Regions from separate parts of the Homo sapiens genome. Here all the other regions are reported to be linked to region 3. Evidence: microRNA targets listed by miRTarBase, many of them from high-throughput screens and not tested one by one. Region 3 holds a microRNA gene; each other region holds the end of a gene's coding sequence.

Region 1 (3,224 bases), not on the chromosome of region 3:
TCCTCACTGGAGTGGACAACAGATTTGGCTATAAGCTTCCTGGCAGCCACTGGGAAGAAAGAAACTATCACACACTTTTTCTTTAAGGCTAACTGGCTTCTCAGGAAATCCTTCCCTCTTCCTCACAGAAAAACCACAGAAATTTCTCCTGTACATTCTCATAGAACAATGATGTGCCAGGAATGGCAGCTATTACAGGAGACAGCAACAGGTGAGCTTGCTCTCATCTCAGTTCCTCAAGTCCCTTGCAGGGGCATTGTGACCCAGATACACAGCTTAGCTGGGGTGGTGAGGACGCAGGCACACGGCTCAGCCGGGGCGACGGGCATACCTAGCTGCAGGCGCACGGCTCAGCTGGGGCGGCGGACATACATAGCTGCAGGCGCACGGCTCAGCCGGGGCGGCGGGCACAGGGCAGTTCTGTAGCTCTGCAAGGAGGCAGGGTTTGCAGGGTCCCCTCCTCTCGGCCTAGAGAAGGAAACAGCACCCACTGGGCTTTGAAATGGGCAGAGGCAACTGCCTTCTTGAAACACCTGCTGGCAAGTCCCCAAAGCAAAACATCAGAGCCACTGGTTTTCCCACTAAAAACCAACACAGAAAATCCTAACAAGTACCACCATTCACACAGCACACGGCGGCAACCTCACGGACAGAGAGCAGGCACAGTCTGAGCCCTGAGGTCACCCTCAGTCCCCTACTTGGACACAGTGGCTGTGATCCTGAAGACACCCTCTTAAGACACAGAACATGCCCTGTACGTGACTGCTGTTTATGAGACTGGTGACCAAGAGGGTAAGAGGCCCCACCTGTGCCAGGGGCCCTGGACAGGCAGAGATTTTGTCTTCAGCTTCAAAAACAGACGTCCCAGCCAGCTTCCCTGCTGGAACTTTGATCACTGATGTTTCAGAACCAGACATCATGAACATCCACATCCCCAAGTAAATAAGTGACAGGCCTGTTATTAATAATTCTCTATTTATTAAAAAGGGTCCTACAGCTTTACAGCCACAGCACCGGACACGGCCCTGGACAGCGACGGCGAGCCCGGCCAGGGGCCGCTTTGCAACTTCAATGCCAAGCTCACGTCTGGCTGCGACCGTGGCAGGCTGTGGCATCCCCGACAGCGGCCGGTGGCGGAGGTATGGGGGCGGGTGGCACCGCTCACTCGAGATTCACAGAACATGGCAAGCCCGCCTGACTGGCATGGCAGTGAATCGTCCTGTACAGCTTCATTTCCTTTAAGAAAACAGTTACAGTAGAGTTCAAGTCCGAGAGCAGGAATGTACGGTCACTGAGGACAAAAGGCAGTGGCCTGGCCCGTGGCCCAGACCCCGCTTCAGTTCTGCCTTCTGTCACCCTGGCGGCTAGGCACAGGTCGGGGCCCTGGATGCCCGACAAGTGACAGGGGAGGGGCGGGCCAGAAGGTCCACTGGTAAGCACCTCGGCCTTTTCCGTCAACAGGTGCCACTGCCCCCTGCTGGGCCCTGGGCCTTCAGCACACATGGCACGTGAAGATGAGGTCCCACAGGGGTGGGGGAAGAGCAGGTGCAGACGGTTGGAGTGCAGCCCCGTCCCTCAATCCCATGGGGCGGGCTTTCGCCAAACCCCTAACGTTGCCCACCCTGAGGCCCAGCCACCAGCCACCCAGGGGCAGAGGATATTGGCTAAGGGTAGCCTGGGTCAAGGCGGCCGGACGTCTTGACCACCTGTAACAGGGCAATGAACTTGGACAAGCCCTTCAGAGAAAGCAGAGCCGGGGCCTTGCCCAGCCCCTAGCAGGTGTGAGTCCCGGCACCTGGGGAAGCTAAGGCACAGCACGGACACCCGAGGGGGGGGCACCGTGCACTGCTTGCACAAAAGGAAATTGCATCCACTTCATCGGCATTTCGATCTGCTCAAGACAGTATCTGCATTTTTTATAAAATTTCCCTGAATGGTCTTGGGAGTGTCAAAAAAGTTTTTTCAATATAAAACAGGAAAATCACACACGTAGTAAAAATATTGGGGGATTATTTCTTCATAGAAACCTTCAGGGCCGGCTCCAGGCAGGCGGGAGAGGAGGAGCTGGGGACACAATTTGCTGTGCAAAGTCCCACTCGTGCGCTCCCCTCCCACACCAGTGGCCGTTCTCCGGCCTCTGGACTCGGCAGTGGGCCCAGTGCAAACTTTGCTTGTGGCTCTGAAGCAAGAGCAGCAGCCAGGTCAGGCGGTGACTATGGTGACCTCTCCCCAACAGATTCAGTGAGCAACAACGCAGCCACAGGTGGTGGCCCAGCCACGGCGCTCTTCCAGGCCGGCCGGCGCCCACCCGCCCTCACCAGGGCTGCAGTGGCCGGTGGGTGAGACACATAGGACTGTCTTTCGAAAATAAAATAAGTATCATGAACCATGCTCATTAAATAAAGCTGCAACAGAAGGACCACGATTCTAAATGGGACTGGGGGAGAGGCCTATTTCTTCCCAAACATGAGTTCATCAACGCTAAGATACTTAGAAATCACACGGATAATGCAAACCGATGCAACGCACAGGTGTCAGGCTGTAACCCGGCACACACAACTGCCTTGATGCCCAAAGCCTGGGCTCCTACTACTCACCACTGACCTACAGTTCTAAAATCAGACAGACACGCTGGCCCAGGGCCCCAGAGCCCTTGGCACAGAGCGGACCTCCAGCCTCCTTCCCGTGAGCAGAGCACAACACGCCAGGTGGAAGAAGTCTCCCGGGAAGGACCGCGCCGGCGCTCACTGGAGGATGAAACCCGGCTGGTGTGGAGGGAGCCGGGGCGGGGGTCTCTGAGGGAGAGGTGGCGGATATGGGGACACGAACTGCGAAGAGAATCCTTGCTGAGTGGGGAGGCCCACGCGGGGGGGCAGGGGCGGGCACTGTAATCCTGGGTACGGCACGGCCTGTCCCGAACTCATGGCCGCAGTAAACGGGGTGGCTAAGCGTCCCGCAGGCACCGGGGGTGGTGGGGGGGGGATGCGCCGAGGTGCAACGGCAGGAGGCCCACTGGCCTCTGGGGCAGGGTAGGGAAGGGGGGCGGTAGGTGCCAGTTCGGGCAGCCTGGGGGGCAGCGGGGCCAGGGCCTGTGGGAGTCTCTGCCCCTTTAGGACCATCTCCTGGAGCTTCTCGATTTTCACCCGTCGCATGTGGGCCAGTTTCCGTTTGCTCTGATAGACATCAATGAAGGAATCCAGAGGAAGTTCTCCATCCAGAAACTT
Region 2 (3,252 bases), not on the chromosome of region 3:
GCCTACAACATGGGGATACAATGACAACAGCTGTATATTTAATATCAAATGTCATGGAGAGAAAGGCACCCGGATAGAAAATAAACTAGGCTCAGCAACAGCAAACCCTTACTTGGTGCTGGCTGCAACTGTTGCTGCCGGCTTAGATGGACTTCATAGCAGTAATGAGGTCTTGGCTGGTCCAGATGAGAGCACAGACTTTTACCAAGTGGAACCTTCTGAGATCCCTTTAAAACTAGAAGATGCCCTTGTGGCACTGGAAGAAGATCAATGCCTGAGACAGGCTCTAGGAGAAACCTTTATTCGATATTTTGTTGCCATGAAGAAATATGAGTTGGAGAATGAAGAAATAGCTGCAGAGAGAAATAAATTCTTAGAGTATTTTATTTAGAATAGAGCTCACAACTACTCCTTTAGACATGTAATTGTTACTTAAAGCTAATCTACCAAAACAAAAAGACTGAACTTTTGTAATTAACAACAGCAACAATAACAAGATTACGAATGCTTTTGACTTTTTTTTTTGTCCATGGAATATTTGACAGATGAAGTAGGACTGCTGAGAAGATTCTGATAACAGAAACAAACAACAAAGTTGTGGTGAAGCTATAATATGCAAACTTACCAGATCTTGTCAGTCATTTCCTATGTGTATGTTGACCTGGATAAGAATATCCAATTTTGGGTGGCAATAAATATATTCGCACATTAAGAAAAAAAAGACTTAAGCATTAGAAAGCAAAATTTAAATGACTAAAAAAGAAAAAAAAGAAAAGGAGAAAAAATTTTAATGGTACACATAGGTTATGATTTCCAGGGAGACAAATATACTAATATAGTCTCGCTAATCAAATAATATTGTGAATCCAGGTTGTATGCACCATTATGGTCTTTCTAAACAAGTTAAATAAACTTTTGCCAAAATATAATGACAGGTAGGCAGTTTTCCCCTAAGTCTCTTCTCTTTTCACCCTTCTCCACTAGCTCCTGAAAAGCTTATGAACTTCAAGGTTATAATGTCCTCAAGAAACAAATCCCTAAGGAATAGAATTGGAGCTGAGAACAACGAGGTCAGATTTTAAAAGTAGTTAAAGCCTTTCTTTTAACAATGCCTCATATAGAAGTTCAATACACAAAGTATAGATAGAAAGATGTTTGTGTGTGAGGGTAGGTGGGCTCTGTCTACTCTGCTTCATTCTTTGAAACTAGATGTTCCTCTGAAACCTCTAGTGCTCTGTGGAGTGTGAGAACAACTGCCTGGCTAGCCAGGGCTATGTTTGGAGTTTAAGTTTGTTATTCAAATTACTGAATCTGCTGCTCACAGAGGTTGGTACCTCCCCAGAGAATATTACCTGTTCCAGGCCTTTGTTTGAATGAGATAATATTGTAACTATCACAAAAGTTTAGCTGCTTTTGGGAAGAAGTCCAAAATCCACTTACTAGCAAATGAAACATTATTCTACTGCTTAGGATCAAACAGCAGATTTTATGTTCAATTAAAACTGACTGTAGTCTCAATTTAGATAGCAATTGCACAAGCAGAGGATTAGAATTTGGCTCAGATCCTCTTATTAAAATTCATATTACTCAGTAGCTTAAATAGTGAAAGTCAGTCTATCCTTCACTAATTACTCCCTTCTTTTTTCCTTTGAGCAGGAGAAGTGTGTTTGGATACATAAGAAGAAAGTTCCCAGCACTTTGGGAGGCCAAGGCAGGAGGATTGCTTGAGGCCAGGAGTTTGAGTCCAGCCTGGACCACATAGTGAGACCCCTGTTTCTACAAAAAAAAAAAAAAAAATGCCTCGCATGGTGGCACATGCCTGTAGTCCCAGCTACGTGGGAGGCTGAGAAGGGAGGATCGCTTGAGCCTGGGAGTTTCAGGCTGCAGTGAGCCATAATCACACCACTGCACTCCAGCTTGGGTGACAGAGTGAGACACTGTCTTAAAAAAAAGAGAAGAATAAAATTCATGGATGCATATGGGGTAGAGAGAAAGATAGTGTAGGGTAGCTGGGGGAAGGAAGGGAACCTGTCCTGAAACCTCCAGAATGAAATCCCACACATTACATCATGGGAGGGATAAGGAAGACTCTCATGCCAATTTTCTAGCTGTCTGCTAGAAAATTCCCCTCTGTTCATTTTCCCCTCTGTTCTCAGTAATAAAACCTCAATATGTTCTTTGAAAGCAATGAAAAATGAAATGATATTTCTGAGCCTTCATTAAGGTTGGATGTGGTCATGTTATTAGGTTCAGTGCAAAGAGGTGAAAGTAGAAGTGTTGCATATAAGTTCTTTAGGACATTTTCTTTTCTTTTCTTGTATTTTTTTTTTTTTTCCGAGATGGAGTCTCGCTTTGTCACCCAGGCTGAAGTGCAATGTGGGGGGGTCTTGGCTCACTGCAACCTCTGCCCCCTGGGTTCAAGTAATTCTCCTGCCTCAGCCTCCCAAGTAGCTGGGATCCCAGGTGCCTGCTACCATGCCTGGCCTTTTAGTAGAGATGGGGTTTCACCATATTGGCCAGTCTGGTCTTGAACTCCTGAACTCAGGTGATCAGCCTGCCTTGGCCTCCCAAAGTGCTAGGATTACAGGCATGAGCCACCATGCCCTACCACACTTTAGAACATTTTTTTAAATGACGGATGCTGTGTGCTCTGCCCTTTCTTTCTCTTGCTGCCTTCACCCTTCCTGCTGAGTGGCCTACAGATAATGTGGCTAGGATTATGTCCTTGGGAAGGGAGGTTTGCTCCACAGGGTACAGTAATAAGGTGGAATCTCTGCTTTGTAGAGCAGTTTGACTTGCCTACATCCAGATGTTTACCTGAGAGAGAACCAAACTTCTATCTTCTTTAAGCCACAATGATTTTGATTCTTTGTTAGTTGCAATGAAATTTATTTTCTCTTTTCCATGTGTGTGTTGTATGTGTGTTTGTGTGTGAGTGTGTGCATATGAGTGGGGAATTTGAGGGATTTGGGGATGAAAGAACAAAGGTATAAGAACCAGTGAAAGACGACTTCCTCAATATTCCCACTTCTAGAGAGGATAATCTGAGTTAATCAAAGGGATCCACACATCCAAAAAATGGGATTGGCTCTAACCCATCCCTATAAAGTGGCATATCCCTTTATAGTCCACGGGCCTTAATGAAACATGTCTAATGCATTGACTTCATTTTACCATAATGAGTAAAGATGCTGTAAAAAGTCTGATAATCACAGTGTTTGAAGCCGTTTTTTCCCCTTTCGCATTATTAGC
Region 3 (3,252 bases):
TCCTAAGAAAGTTCTGCTTTCAAATAACTCCATCTGCACCTCCTCCCCAGCCAGATTCTAACACTGGTGAAGAGACAACCTCCTTCTTACCCTGAGGAACGTGTCAGGGAGTGTCTGAATGAGTTATAAAGATTCTCTTCTCCTCTTTTCCCCCTTCTTTTGTGACCACATCTGCAAACTCTGAAGAAAGAACATGTTGGTTTGGGTTTAAAACCCAGAATAGAAAGCTGGCATTAGAAACGTTTCAGGAATGCTGAGAATTTTTAGAGGTGTTCTTTTTTTTATTTTTTGAGACAGAGTTTCGCTCTTGTTGCGTAGGCTGGAGTGCAGTGGCGCAACCTCAGCTCACTGCAACCTCCGCCTTCCAGGTTCAAGTGATTCCCCAGCCTCAGCCTCCTGAGTAGCTGGGATTACAGGCATCCGCCACCAGCCCCAGCTAATATTTTGTATTTTTAGTAGAGATGGGGTTTCACCATGTTGGCCAGGCTGGTCTCGAACTCCTGACCTCAGGTGATCCACCTGCCTCAGCCTCCCAAAGTGCTGGGATTACGGGTATGAGCCACTGCGCCTGGCCTAGAATGTGTTCTTAAAGGTTCTTGTTCTCATTATGTTTTTATGAGCAGGTATAATTGTCTTAGTGTTTCGGCTTAATAGAGGAATCCACTCCATTCAAATATTTTTTTTTTCTGAATCCCAACTCAGTCCTTGGCACTGGATGGGATGCTGTGAGGGTGCAGAGAGGAATAAGACGTGGGGCTTGCCCTTAAGGAGCTTTAACAGGAAGACCCAGAAATAGGAGCAACTATGTCTGCTATAAGGCAGAACAGGCCAGATGCTATCAGGGAGTTGCAAGTAACCATAAACATGTGCCAAACACAGTCTCTACAAAAAAAAAAAAAAAAAAAAAAAAAAAAGCAGGGTATGGTGGCTCAAGCCTGTAGTCCCAGCTACTTGGGAGGCTGAGGTGGGAGGTGGGAGGATCACTTGAGCCCGGGAGGTCGAGGCTGCAGTGAGCTGTGGTTGCGCCACTGCACTCCAGCCTGGGCAACAACCAGAGTGAGAACATATCTCAAAAAAAAGAAAAAGTTTTCGGCCGGGTGCAGTGGCTCACACCTATAATCCCAGCACTCTGGGAGGCTGAGGCAGGTGGATCACCTGAGGTCGGGAGTTCGGAACCAGCTTGACCAACATGGAGAAACCCCATCTCTACTAAAAATACAAAATTAGCCAGGTGTGGTGGCGCACGCCTGTAACCCCAGCTATTCAGGAGCCTGAGGCAGGAGAATCGCTTGAACCCGGGAGGTGGAGGTTGCGGTGAGCCGAGATCGTGCCATTGCACTCCAGCCTGGGTGACAGAGTGAGACTCTATCTCAAATAAATAAATAAAGTTTCCTCCCCTCTGCACATGCACTCCTTTCATTTACAGAAGCCCTTTTCTACACTCTCACAAGCTGTCCTGAGAGTTTCACCCACCCCCGCGGGGACAGCACAGTGTTAAGAGCACAAGCTCTGGAGCAAGGCAGCCTAGTGTTGAATCCCAGCTCTGCCGTGCAGACGATGCATAACTCTGGGCAAGTTACTTAACATCTCTGGGACAGTTTCCCCATTGGGAAAATGAAGATAATATTTCCTGTTGGCCCAGCACAAGTGGCTCATGCCTGTAATCCCAGCACTTTGGGAGGCCAAGTCGGGAGGATCACTTGAGCCCAGGAGTTCAAGACCAGCCTGGGCAACATGGCAAAACCTCATCTCTACAAAAAATACAAAAATTAGCTGGGTGTGGTGGCACACGTCTGTAGTCCCAGCTACTTGGAGGCTGAGGTGGGAGGATCACTTGAGCCCAGGAGGTCTAGGCTGCAGTGAGCAGTGATCGTGCCACTGTACTCCAGGCTGGGTGACAAAGCAAGACCCTGTCTCAAATAATAATAATAATAATAATAATAATAGTAATAATATTCCTTATCTTGTTGGGTGGTTATGCAGATTAAGTGAAGTGGTCAATTTAAAGGGTTTAGTGGTCAGTTCATACAGAGCATTCAATGAATTAGCAGTTGTGACATCTCCATTTCCTAAATGAGAAGGCTGAGGTGTAACTGGTCCAACTGATTTGCCCAGAATTATTCAGCTAGTAAGCAGTAAGGGCAGGGCTTGAGCCCAAGACTTCTGGCTCCAAGTCCAGTGCTCGTTCTGTTGTTTAGCAGCCTGAAAACTATGGGAGTCCAGGACCTGACCCAGGGGCTGGGGAGGAAGAGCAGGAAGTGGGAGGAGTGGAGCTCCAGAGAGGTTTCCTAAGATAACATGGAATGGAGACTTTCTTTGAGCTGCTATATGTGAAAGCCTTCGTCTAAGGATTATTTTCAACAGCAACTCAATTTATTGGGTATCCTACTCAATGTATTAGTGTAATTTCTTTCTTTACATTGAATGTTCAACACCTTTTTTTTTTTTTTTTTGAGATGGAGTCTCACTGTGTCACCTAGGTTGGTGTGCAGTGGCGTGATCTCGGCTCACTGCAACCTCTGTCTTTCGAGTTCAAGCGATTCTCCAGCCTCAGCTTCCTGAGTAGCTGGGATTACAGGTGCACGCCACCCCACGCCCAGCTAATTTTTGTATTTTTAGTAGAGACATGGTTTCGCCATGTTGGCCAGGCTGGTCTCAATCTCCTGACCTCACGTGATCCACCTGCCTGGCCTCCCTGTTGGGATTACAGGTGTGAGCCACTGTGCCCAGCTGAATGTTCAATTTCTTTTGATTGATCCCTCTTCTGTGTTCCCAAACACACTGTACAAATTCTGCTATTGAAGAGTAATTGCCCCAAAATTTAGTGGCTTAAAGCAACAAGAATCATTTCATCATCTTTCAAGGTTTCAGAGGGTCAGGAATTCAGAAAGGGATTGCCTGTGTGGTCTGACTTGGGGTCTCTCATGTGGTTGCTGGTGGTGAATGGTGAACGGAGCTGGATGGGCATAGCTCTGCCTTCATTTACTCTCAGAGCGGGCCAGGCGCAGTGGCTCACGCCTGTAATCCCAGCACTCTGGGAGGCCGAGGCGGGCAGATCACGAGGTCAGGAGATCAAGACCATCCTGGCTAACACGGTGAAACCCCGTCTCTACTGAAAATACAAAAAACTTAGCCGGGCGTGGGTGGCGCGCGTCTGTAGTCCCAGCTACTCGGGAGGCTGAGGCAGGAGAATGGCGTGAACCCGGGAGGCGGAGCTTGCAGTGAGCCCAGATCACGCCACTGCGCTCCAGC

What was found. Region 3 holds the annotated microRNA hsa-miR-378f (ACUGGACUUGGAGCCAGAAG, at 2,161-2,180, opposite strand). A microRNA usually pairs through its seed, bases 2 to 8, with sites in the 3' UTR of a target mRNA and lowers its output. Matches are read on the target gene's strand: a 7mer-m8 pairs with bases 2 to 8, a 7mer-A1 pairs with bases 2 to 7 and ends in A, and an 8mer does both.
Region 1: miRTarBase lists VPS37B as a target of hsa-miR-378f. Seed matches in the 3' UTR shown: 8mer at 2,137-2,144.
Region 2: the mRNA of LGSN is a reported target of hsa-miR-378f. Seed matches in the 3' UTR shown: 7mer-m8 at 1,742-1,748.

The regions. Positions count from the first base shown.
Region 1 is chr12:122,864,372-122,867,595 of GRCh38, forward strand. It overlaps VPS37B (VPS37B subunit of ESCRT-I), which reads right to left. Exons shown (of 4, transcript NM_024667.3): 4 at 959-3,224. The coding sequence ends at 2,745. LOC124903039 (a long non-coding RNA gene) reads left to right here. Exons shown (of 2, transcript XR_007063500.1): 1 at 1-211; 2 at 629-986. Among named protein-coding and RNA genes, the nearest start is that of VPS37B, 30 kb to the right of the region's middle.
Region 2 is chr6:63,277,160-63,280,411 of GRCh38, reverse strand. It overlaps LGSN (lengsin, lens protein with glutamine synthetase domain), which reads left to right. Exons shown (of 4, transcript NM_016571.3): 4 at 1-3,252. The coding sequence ends at 391. Among named protein-coding and RNA genes, the nearest start is that of LGSN, 41 kb to the left of the region's middle.
Region 3 is chr1:23,928,049-23,931,300 of GRCh38, reverse strand. It overlaps MIR378F (microRNA 378f), which reads right to left and starts at 2,231; the gene lies at 2,154-2,231.